Linked DNA regions of Homo sapiens: region 2 is linked to region 1. The links come from fine-mapping of genetic effects on gene expression. A gene starts in region 1. The other region holds a variant in brackets. All regions are shown on one strand. Distances are from middle to middle. Region 1 holds the start of MAPK8 (mitogen-activated protein kinase 8). Region 2 overlaps ARHGAP22 (Rho GTPase activating protein 22).

The links. PIP is the estimated chance that this variant, and not a neighbour inherited with it, causes the effect.
Region 2: its variant is the best candidate, but not a certain one, in a credible set for the expression of MAPK8 in sigmoid colon (GTEx, PIP 0.71).

The regions. Positions count from the first base shown.
Region 1 is chr10:48,303,774-48,309,146 of GRCh38, forward strand. MAPK8 (mitogen-activated protein kinase 8) reads left to right here and starts at 2,904. Exons shown (of 12, transcript NM_001323329.2): 1 at 2,904-3,048. RefSeq lists a silencer at 2,535-3,484.
Region 2 is chr10:48,450,775-48,456,147 of GRCh38, forward strand. ARHGAP22 (Rho GTPase activating protein 22) reads right to left here. Exons shown (of 10, transcript NM_021226.4): 6 at 4,228-4,360; 7 at 3,314-3,387; 8 at 2,530-2,651; 9 at 1-366. Among named protein-coding and RNA genes, the nearest start is that of ARHGAP22-IT1, 58 kb to the right of the region's middle. RefSeq lists an enhancer at 3,270-4,247. The variant T/C (reference allele first, on the strand shown) is at 3,153.

The DNA of each region.
Region 1 (5,373 bases):
ACATTCCATCAGAAATAGCAAAATGCTTTCTGAAATCAATCATACACACACACAAACACACAAACGCACATATGTAAATATGTGGAATGTTCTTTCTAGTTGTAGATAATCAGAAGCTGACCATGGTAGACTGATACTAAGTCAGAAGCTCACTCTGTGGAGTGAGACAGAGGCGGTTATTAACAATAGCATCACAGAACTGGGCGTGAAACTCTGGAGCTCTGCTCCCAGCAACTCCCCTCACTTCACAACAGCTCTAAGGGTTGTATTGTTTTTTGTTACCTCCAGGCCTTTAATTTGTCTGGTGAAGAGTAGGTGGTACCTCTGTCTGTGCACTCAATCACACCCCGTTCTCTCTGGAAACACACGTCTTCCTTCTCTTTTGTGTGTATTCAACCTCTCCCTCTCAACAGTCTTCCCATCAGATGTAAAATATGCTTGTGTCCTACTTCACTGCCCGACTCATCCATATTCACCACCTTTATTTTCTCACCTCCCATTCATTTCCCAGCCCACTCTAATTCACTTCTGGTTCTATTACTCCAGGATTCCAAGCCTCCTCTTATGTTTAATATTATTGATCAGCCCTTTCTTCTTGAACACCTCTCTCCTGGTTATCCTTCTATCTCCCTGGCAGCTCATCACAGACTCATCTTCCCCTTTGTGGCCCTTTAACACTGAAGTTCCCCAAGCCTGGTTGCAGGCCCTCTCCTCAGGCCTAGGCTGACCCATCTATCCCAAGGCTTCAAGGAATCACTCACTGTCAATGATTCGTCTCTTAACTAGCTGAACCTCAGCTCTGTATATCCAACCACCAACTTAACATCAGTTTTGGGCATCTCAAAAGCCTTCAAACAGCCAAACAGCCTGCTCTCATGATATTTTAATGCCAGTCTGGTCCTTTTCCAAGATTCCCATCTTGGTAAACCAGCACTAACATCCATCCTTGGCCACAAGCCAGAAACCTTTGAGTTTTCCTTGATGACTCCCTCTCCTTCATTGCCCCACATAACCCATCACTTGGAGAATGTGCAAGTTCTGCCCGTTGGACCTCCTAAATAATTCACAGATCTTTCCATGTCCATCAACTATTTCCATGACCATCACCCTAGATCAAGCTTCCACCTCTTACCGTCTAGGCTACTCCTACATCCACCTGGGCTCTTTCCAATAAGGAATCTTTTCAAGAAGCTATTCTGACCATGCCACACCCTTTGCTGAATATGTCAGGGGCTTCCCATTGCACTTAGGATAAAAAGATTTTCAACATGGCCAATATGGATGTCCTACGTTTGGTCCCTTTACCAATCTTCCTGACTTCATCTCATAGCTCCTTCTTCCTTGCTCCTCCAGCAGAGCTGGCCTTTCCTGAATTTCTCCATCTTATCCTGCTTAATCTCATCAGAGGACCTTTGCGTGCAAAGCTACCTCTAAAATATTCTCTGTCTAGTCAAACCTATTCCCAGCTCAAGTGACAGTTCCTCAGGGAAATCTTTTCTGGCCTTATTAACTAGTGTATTAATTGGTTTCATAGTATTATGTATCCTTAACAATTTGTATTATAAAACAGTGATAATTTTGCGTTTACTATTATTACTTTCATAGTACAGTGATTAAATCTGTAAACTCTACTGTATTGCCTGGCACTGAATGGGCATGCAATAAATAATTATTGCAGGAACAAAGGATGGCAGGAAGGAAATTAAGAAGGTTGAGAGGGAGGGAGAGAGGAAATGGGAAGAGAATGAATGAATAATCATCTGTATGTTCCCTTTCAGAATCACCAGAAACAGGCCAGCCCCACATGTAATAGGAAAGTAGTTTACCTGAAATCATTCATTTATTCAACAAATATTTATATATTCATTATTAAAGTAACTTACTTGTTTCTGATTGTGAACATAACTATTCCTCTCGGAAAACATGAGAAAATACCCAAAGTATAAACGAGAACCAAGTCACCCTTTATTCCATAGTCCAATGATGAACCATTGTTAACATAATTTGGTGTATTTCTTTCCAGGTTTTTTCTATGTGTATATATAGTATCTAAGTGGGACCATTCTATATATGACTTGTTTCTTGCTTCTTTCTCTTAATGATACATTGTGAACATGTTCCTATGTTGTTAAGAATTCCTTGAACACATGGCATTTAAATTGCTAAAATGTATTCTACCGAATGGTGTAGGTAGTTCAAACGCCTTTCCACCCGTTGTTGGATATTTAAAGGACTTGTCAATTTATCGCTTCTGTAACATTTACACGCTTTGTGGGGCCTCAGAAGTAAACCAGGTAATGCAAGGAATCTGGGAAGAGGTGGATTTGCAAGGAATCTCGGAGGAGGTGGATTTTGGAAAAACTGGAGGCAGCTTTTCCCGGGCAGCTGAAGAGAACACTTATCTCTCTGTAGGTTTCTGGGACCCGGACAGGTGTCCTCAGAATGGAACATATTGTCGGTCAAGGTAACCAGCTCTTCATCACTCAGGTGTGTGTACCGGAAGGGGGTGCCTGTTCGCTGCGCAGGTTAGGCCTAAGCGCACCTGCCCTTCAACCCTGTGCCGACGAGGCCCGAAGGCTTAAGCTCTGACCTGGCTACCGCCGCCAACCAGATGCGGTCCCCTGGGGCCACGCGCCGCCACGTGCCGCCACAGGGCCCGCCCCTCCCGCTCCAGGCCACGCCCCTCACCCACAGCCCTCGGAGGCTCTCTCCGCGGCTCCGCCTCCAAGCGACCTCCGCAAGTCCTCTCGTAACCCCTGGAGTAGCGCCGTCCCCGGGCGGCGGCCCCGCCCCCGCAATCCGGGCCCCGGGGCTGCCCCGCCCCGCCGGCCGCTCGGGAGGCGCGGGGGCGGGGCCCTGCGCGATGACGTGCGCGGGCGTGCGCGGTGACGGCCCGCGTCTCTGTTACTCAGCCGAGCGGCCGAGGCCGGACGACGCGGCTTGGATTGCGGAGCCGCGAGCAGCGCTGGGTAACGGCCGCGGCGACCACCCCGGACGGCCCCTGTCCCCGCTGGCGGGCTTCCCTGTCGCCGTTCGCTGCGCTGCCGGGTGAGTGCGGCGGACGCCGCAGGGCCGGGACGGCAGGCGGCCCCGTCGTGTTTATGTTATTGTGCCGCTGCCGCCGCCGCCGCCTTCTCCTCAGCCGTAACCCCCTCCTGGGAGTGGGGGCGGGAGCGCGCGGTGGGCGGGGGCGGCGCGGGAACAATAGCGGCGCGGAGGCGGGGGCCAGCCGAGGGGGCGTGGGGCTGCGGGACCTGGGTGCGCTCCGCTGCCCGCCAGCCCGCCTGCCGCCGCGAGCCCCGCCCGCCTGTCCTCTCGCGTCCTCTTCGCGTGGGTCCTGCCTCCGCGGCGGGAGAAGAAAATGGAGCGGGGGGGTGGGTGGCAAGTTCTGAAACACTTCGGCAAGGGTCGGACGGAGGTGTCTTTGCGGCCCGCCGCGCCCTGGCTGCCTCCGGGGCGGCGGGGAGCCGGGGAGAGCGCTTCTGCCGGCAGGTCCCCAAGCCTGCCCCGCGCCCATAGGGACCGTATTTTGCTTCTCGATGCTTTCTTTGTGCTAACGTTCTGGGCGAACGCAGGCAGCAGCGCTGAAAAGGGCCAGAGTGGCCTGCAGCTCTGGGCTGCAGGGCAGAGAGCCCAGGCCCGTGGCTCGGGTGGGAGGTGTCCATCCAGCTTGGCCCGAGCTTCGGTGGTCAGCGCGCATTTCTCTTGAGGGTCATCGGTGGTGACCTTTTGACTTTTTCACCCCACCCTCCCATCTCTTTGTCTCGCATTTGTGTTCCCGATTCAGAGATGGTAGAACCAAGTCCATTTTAAAGTACCCTGATGAACACTTTCCGTTTTTATTTCTGAAAGTTCCCTGCTTGGTCTTTACTGCGAATTTAATAACATGTTGACTACATGGCATTGTCCAGTGATTACTATTTTTACCTCTGAAATCCAGCGATCTTTCCAGTAGAATTCTGGTCCGTCAGTCCATTGTGTTTTGAGATAAGCATCCAGCAAGTACCTCCTTGGCAATTAGAACATCTGTTTTTTCATTCATTCATTCATTCAGCAGCTGTTTAGTACCGTACTCAGATGAAGAGGTTTGGTGTGAAGGTAAAGTATCCTTTCATGGAAGAGGATGCTTTGACTGAAGTATAATAGATGGACCTTTAAATGAGACAGTTACATAAGTGATGTCTGTTAAGGAAGGTATGGTTATATTCTGGGTCATTTTTTAAGCAGTATATCTGGAAGTTCAAGTGTAATAGGAAGTAGAATTAGATTTGGTCTAAATATACAACAGCTTTTATTTATTTCTAAATTTTATTTTTTCCAGTCTTGCAGCCTTACAGTCATTTGTAATGGTTACCTCAGATTCCCCTGCTGTGGTTAACGTTAAACCTAGGAGGTCAGATGCTCTAAGTGAACATGTTTAGTGCTGTGCCTGACAAAAGCAAGCAATCAAAATGGGACTTCCTTGAGGGCAGGCCTGTCTTGCATCTGTTTCTCCACCACCTAGCCTGGAATATAGTAAGTGTTCAATAAAAGTCGGATTGATGAAAAGCTCTTTGTAATTGATAATATTTAAAATCAAGCCTTAAAAAAAACCGTAATGTTCTCCATAAAGTTTTGGAAGCTTCATGCAACTGTCGCATCAGATGGCTAAATGGTCAGTTCATGTACATTATCTGTTATGATGACATGGGCTTTTGAATCACGTGTAGGTCATTCACTGTCCTAAAATAAAATCTTGTCTAAATATTTTTTTAATATGATAAATAAAGTAGGTTGTGGAGTGTGTGTTTCTGTGTATGTGCTAGTTTATGTGTGTCCGTGTGTGTGCATGTACGTAATCCACACACAGGCACTCATAAACTGGTATTTCAGTAGGGGTCTAAAATGATTGCATTTATAATTTTGTGAATATTATTTGAAAGTTTTTTGGTGACTCTTATTGTGGAAAATTGAGGACAAAACCACATAAATGTTTTATTAGAAATATTTCTAATATTTTAGAAATGTTTACTTGAAATGTTTGGTTTTAAGTTCTAACTTGTATTAACACAATTGGTACAAAATATGAGCCTAAAACTCAAAATAATTGATTTATCGAAGTTAAAGCTCTTTTCCACTTACTAAATACAGTTTAGCGTTTGTTTTGTATTTGAAAGAATATGAAATGAGTTAACTAATGAGTTTCTTATTATTTGCTGTAAAGTGGAAATGAAGAAATAAGAAAATAATACTTTTTTAAGATGATGGTTGAAAATCTTTGAGATACCAAAGTTTTATTGCTTTACCTAGTTAGGGTATGTCAGATTCTAGTAGGGGTTACTGACAATCCTTTGGCAGTAGCTCACAGGCTGTGTAAAGAACCAGAGTTGTGTT
Region 2 (5,373 bases), 150 kb after region 1:
GCACCTCCAGGGATGAGCCGCCCCCCTTCGGGCTTCCCGATAGGGACCTCGGCTGCCGGAAGGAGGACTTCCAACTGGGCAGGGTCTGCACCTTCTTCCCAGGGCTGCACCGGCTCCCCGGCCCCGTGGGGGCTGTTCTGGAGAGCACCGCCACGGCCGCCCCGTCCAGGGAAGAGGTCCTGTGCGCGGGCAGGCCGGGGCCGCCGGGCTCTCCTTGGCTGTCCCTGGTGACCTCCTCGGAGCCCCACCCCACTGCGCATTGCAGGCCCCCGCGCGGGGAGGTGGGCCCTTCCGGGACCGGTGCCGTGAAGAGCTGGCTGTGTTTGCGGATGAGGACGGTCATCAGGTGCTGGACGAGGGAAGTGCCTGCCGGGAAGAGAGGCGGAGAAGGGCCTTGCTGCCAGCCACTCGGCCCAGGCTCGCTCTGCCAGTCATGGAGAAGCTGCAGCTTCGTGGGAGCTGGCCCTGTCCCCAGAGCCAGGCCGCCCCTCAAGGGAGCCTTCATCCGCCCAGAGGAAAGGACCACACACCCTCCAACTCCAGGCAGGACAGCAGGATGGGGCCGCAGAACCGCCTTCCTCAGGCACAGAGCCGCAAGCAGGGAGGAAGCACTGTGCCTGCGCTCACGCCCTCCAGCTGGGGTGGGGTGAGGAAGCAGGCACCAAGGCTGCACGGTGAGCAGGTGGCAGGTTGGAACTGGAACCTGGGACCTGAGATGCCAGAACTCTCTCGGCTGCCCCACGTCACCCCTCTGTGCTGCTGACAACTGCCATGCCTGAATGTCCACACTCTGGGAGCATAGGGCTCTGGGACAGGGAATAGAGCCATCTTTCCTGTGTGGGGGCACACACATACAATTGCACACACAATGCACCCCGCCCACCCCCTAAAATACCCCCCACAATCACACGTACAATGCACCCCATCCACCCCCAAAGTCCCACACACACACACAACTGGACAATGCACCCACCCAGCCTCCCCAAATCCCCCAACACACAATCGCACATACAATGCCCACTCCCGAAAATCCCACACACATAAAATTACACACACAATGCACTCTACCCAGTTTCCCCAAAGCCCCTACACACACACAAGTGAACACACAAATCCCCTACCCAGCCTCCCCAAATCCCCCCATACAGAATCGCACAATGAACCCCACCCACTGCCCAAAATCCGCCACACACAATTGCACACACAATGCACCCTCCGCAGCCTCCCCAAATTCCCCCATACACAACTGCACACATAGTGCACCCTGCTCACCCCCCAGAATCCCACATACATATAATCTCGCACACACACAATCCCCCGTGTCTAGGCCAAGGCCCCTGAGATGCAGCCCCCAGTCCTGGGGACTCAGTTCCTACGGTGGTGGGGTGGGGGCCTGCAGCGGAGGTGGGCAGTGCAGGAAGGACCAGGGCATCTATCCAGCTGCCTCATTCCCTCCTGCCACCCTCACCACAAAGGCCCGACGCTAGGAGGTCCCCCGGTAGGAGGGAGGGCTGAGTGCCAGGGTGGACTCTCCCACTGAAGTTGACTAGGAATCCTGGAAGAAGTCAAGGAAGGAATTCTGAGGCCAAGAACCTAGGTGAAGCAGGAACTCCATGAAGCAGGCAGGGCAGGCCTCCTCCCTCAAGCATCTGTACCACCAGGCAGGTAGGAGCTTGTGTTTTCCTGGCCTCAAGGGGCCCTGGGGTGGGAGACCCAGCCAGGGCTGACCAAAGTGCGGACTTGAGCAAAAGCACTCCGCCACGTCCCTCAACATGGGATAAGGGCAAGAACAGCCTCAGCTGTGGGCTTCCTGTCTGAGCAGCACGTCTCTCATGCATACTCCACTGGGGACAGTGTTCCATGGGCCCTATGAGGTGGGCTGTCTTTTCTATGGCAGCCTACACCTGTGCCCTTTGCTAAGTCTGGCTGACTGGCCTCTGGTGAGTCCCCTCGCCTCTCTTGGCCTCAGTTTCCTCATCTGTAAAGTGGGGGCGATTACCACAGCACAGGCTGGTTGTAAAGCCTGAAATGAGATGATACAAACAAAGCACTTGGTAGAAGCTTACTGAAAGCGGCTGCTGTTGCTGCTATTTTTAATCACTTATTGTTATTTATCATAGAGAAATTCTCCAGGGTTTGCAAAGCTGACATCCAGGAACCTATGACAATTGCTTAATTGTAAAAGAAAAGCAAACATGTCTGTGTTCAAGGGCAAAAGTGCTGACCTCTCCCATCCCTCCAGCCTCTTCCATCCACAGAAACCCCTGGCTATTCTAATTGCACCCAGTGACCTGCTGCTGCCCATCGCAGGGCAAAGTTCCTTTTTTATCTTATAGCTGAACCTCATGGGGGTCGGGGGTGAGGTCTGCAGAAGTTCCTGCCAAGTCCCCAGAGATGGAGATGTGCCACCTGAGCCACCCCTCCTGCTGGCCTGGCCCTGGGCTGGGATGGTTCCAAGGACTTGCCGTGGACCAAGATGAGCCCAGACCCCGGCAGCACCCAGGGCCACCAGGTACACCTCCCACTTACCTTCCATGATGGTTACTGGGTCCTCTACCTGTGGCCGCAGAATGTTAGGTCCAAAAACGGTTGCCAGATTCTGGACACTCATCTTGTTGACATTTGAGTATGCCTGAACTTCATCCAGAAACCTGCAAAGTAAGGAAGCAGCAGTCATCAAAGAAGCAAGTTGTGATGCCCAGTCTCCTGTGTGCGGCCTGGACGCACCGCCACACCCCTGCTGAGCCCTGCTGCCTGTGGGCTTTTGCCCACTGGGTGTAGCCTGCCTCTGCCAGGCTCGATGAGGGAAGGCTTCCCCTGGGGCCCAAGAGGGCCATCAGAAGTAAAAGTCACTGGGACAAGGGCCCACCGCTATTTGTGTGAAAGGAGGACAAGACTCTGCAAATTGTAGTGGGCACAAATTCTGGGAAGTCCCAGACCCCAGTCAGCGCCGCCCCTGCATTCCCCTTCTCAGTGTCTAGGATGGGGATACATGAAGGGTTGGGGTCAAGGGGCAGATGCCGGGGGGACAGGATGGCAAGAGGCACCCAGGAGGGACAGAGGGTATGTCCCTTCTGGAATTATCTACCCAGGTCTGTTTAAAACCAGCTGCTCCCATGGGACTGTAAGCTTCGTGAACTCAGGGTCTGTGC[T/C]TTTCCACTCCCTGCTTCGTCCACGCTGGGTTGAGGCTGTGCAGGGTGGGGAATGACCCGGGCCCCCCTCTGACAAGGAAGAGTTGCGTGTCTCGCTGTGGGGTTGGGGGAGCGTGGAGCCAGTGCAGGAAAGTGTGGTTCCCTCCTGCCAAGCCGCTTACTTGCAGATGTATCTGAGCAGGTTGTAATTTGCCTGAGGAAGGTTGCTCACTTGTTTAGCCAACTCCAGAGTGCCCTTAGGAATGAAGAACAGAATTTCAAACACCGGCAATGAGGGCCCTGACTGTTCTCTGACTGCGAGGAGGGGTGGGCAAAGAGAAGGGAGGTGGGGGCTACGGCAGCCCAGCCCCAACAGACCAGAGGGCTCCACCACCTCCACCTCCCCTCAAGGAGTGGCCAGGGCCCAGCTGTGACCTCCTGGGAAGCTAACTTGCTTCCAAGGAGCTGGTGTGAGGGGTGAGCCTCTACAGGGCCCGTGGAGGAATGTCAGGGCCAGCACTCAGCTCACTTATCAAGACACAAATATTTGCCAGATAGTGAGCCCTCATCTCCCACATGGCCGCAGGGAAGGCAAACAGTCCTTCCCTGGCCCTGAGCCACCTGGGGCTGCAGACCAGCACCTGCACGGGTGGGGACGGGAGGGCTGGCTCATCTGTCCTGGGAGCCAGCTCAAATTCTTTTGGGAAGGAAGCAAGATATAAATAAAAGATGTCCTGGTTTCTGAGCCTGTGACGGGCCTGAGTGGCCTGAGTCGGGTGTGGGGAGTGTGAGCACCTACTGGTGTGACAGCCAGAGCTGGGCACACCGGACCCACCCCTCCCAGGGACCAAGGCCGCAGACAGGTATGGCTCCAGACAGCAGGATTCCCCAGCCCTCCCCGACCTGAGCAGGATGCCCTGGCCCCTCCCCCACCCAAGCAGGATGCTCCAGGCCCCCACCACACCCCCAACACAGCAGGCCTCCACAGGATCCATGTGCCATGAAAATTCATGAAAAGTCAGAGTCTGTGTCCTGAGTCTACAGGCTGCCACCCAGCCAGCCCATCTCCCAGGAGCTATCCCCAGGAGCCACTGACCTCCCCCTCGTCCTTGGTGAGCAGCTGGGCGCAGCTGAGGAAGTCCTCGTACCTGGCGAAGGGGACCACGGGCTCGGGGAGCTCCCGCAGGTACAGCTTCAGCAGGGAGGCCACCGTGTGCACGTCTGTTGTGCTGTGGGGGGGAAGAGGACAGGTGTGTGAGGCCTGGGATGCCAGGGGACTTCAGGGGTGACTGGTACGCCCTGACGCCAAGGGGCAGCCTCTGGTCTCAGGTGCATTCTTGGGCGCACTGGGGGCTGCATCTGCGGCCAGCTGCCCTGGTCAAGGAAAGGCCAGTGCTGCTTCTGGGAGCAGTGGATAGAGCTGGGGCAGGGACGACTAAGTATCCATGGCCAGGAGCTCCAGCTCAGGGACCACCCATCATGCCTAGGCACCTGCTCAGAATCCCTGAGTCTCATGTCTGTGTCAGTCCGTCCAGAACCTGTCCTGCGTAGACTGCGTAGGACTCCAGGAACTGTGAAGCCACAGGGCCCTGCAGGGCACAGCTGCTCCACCCTAGCAGCTGCCCTGGGCCAGAGGAATCAAGTGTGATGCAGGTCAGGTTGCACAGGGGAGGGCCCTGGGACATGGGCCAGGGAGCCCCTTCCACAGGCCTGGTGGCCATCCCAAGGTCCCCTGCAAGACGATGTGGGAGCTGCCTGCTCTGCGGTAGGAACAGCTATCCTGCAGGCCCTCCATAGGTGCTGCCAACCCCCAGCCCGAGCTTGCCCTCTCCACTGCACTTGACTTTGGCTGGAGTGGGAGGAGCTGCATCAAAGGCGCCCACAATGCAGGGCTGCTGGCTCCTTGTTGGGGAGCAGGTATCCGGGGACCAACAGCAGGAGCAGGTCGGAGGTCAGGCCCTTTCCTCTCTTCCTGTCCACAGTGGTGACACCTAGGCTTCTAAGCTCATCACCCCCTCTCCAGTGCCCCAGGAGTCCACTCCAGGCCTCAGTCTCCCGCTCTGGCTCGGAGCTGCCAAGGCAGAAGTAGACCAGTTGTGGATGGTGGTGGCAATGGGCCTGGCATAGTCCTTCCCTGGGTCCTGTGTGGGGTCTGCAGTTCAGGTCCTAAACGAGAGCCTTGGCATCTCCTCCGAGCTTGCGTTCCAAGCCGTATATGGGCCCCAGGTTGTTCATCTGCTTG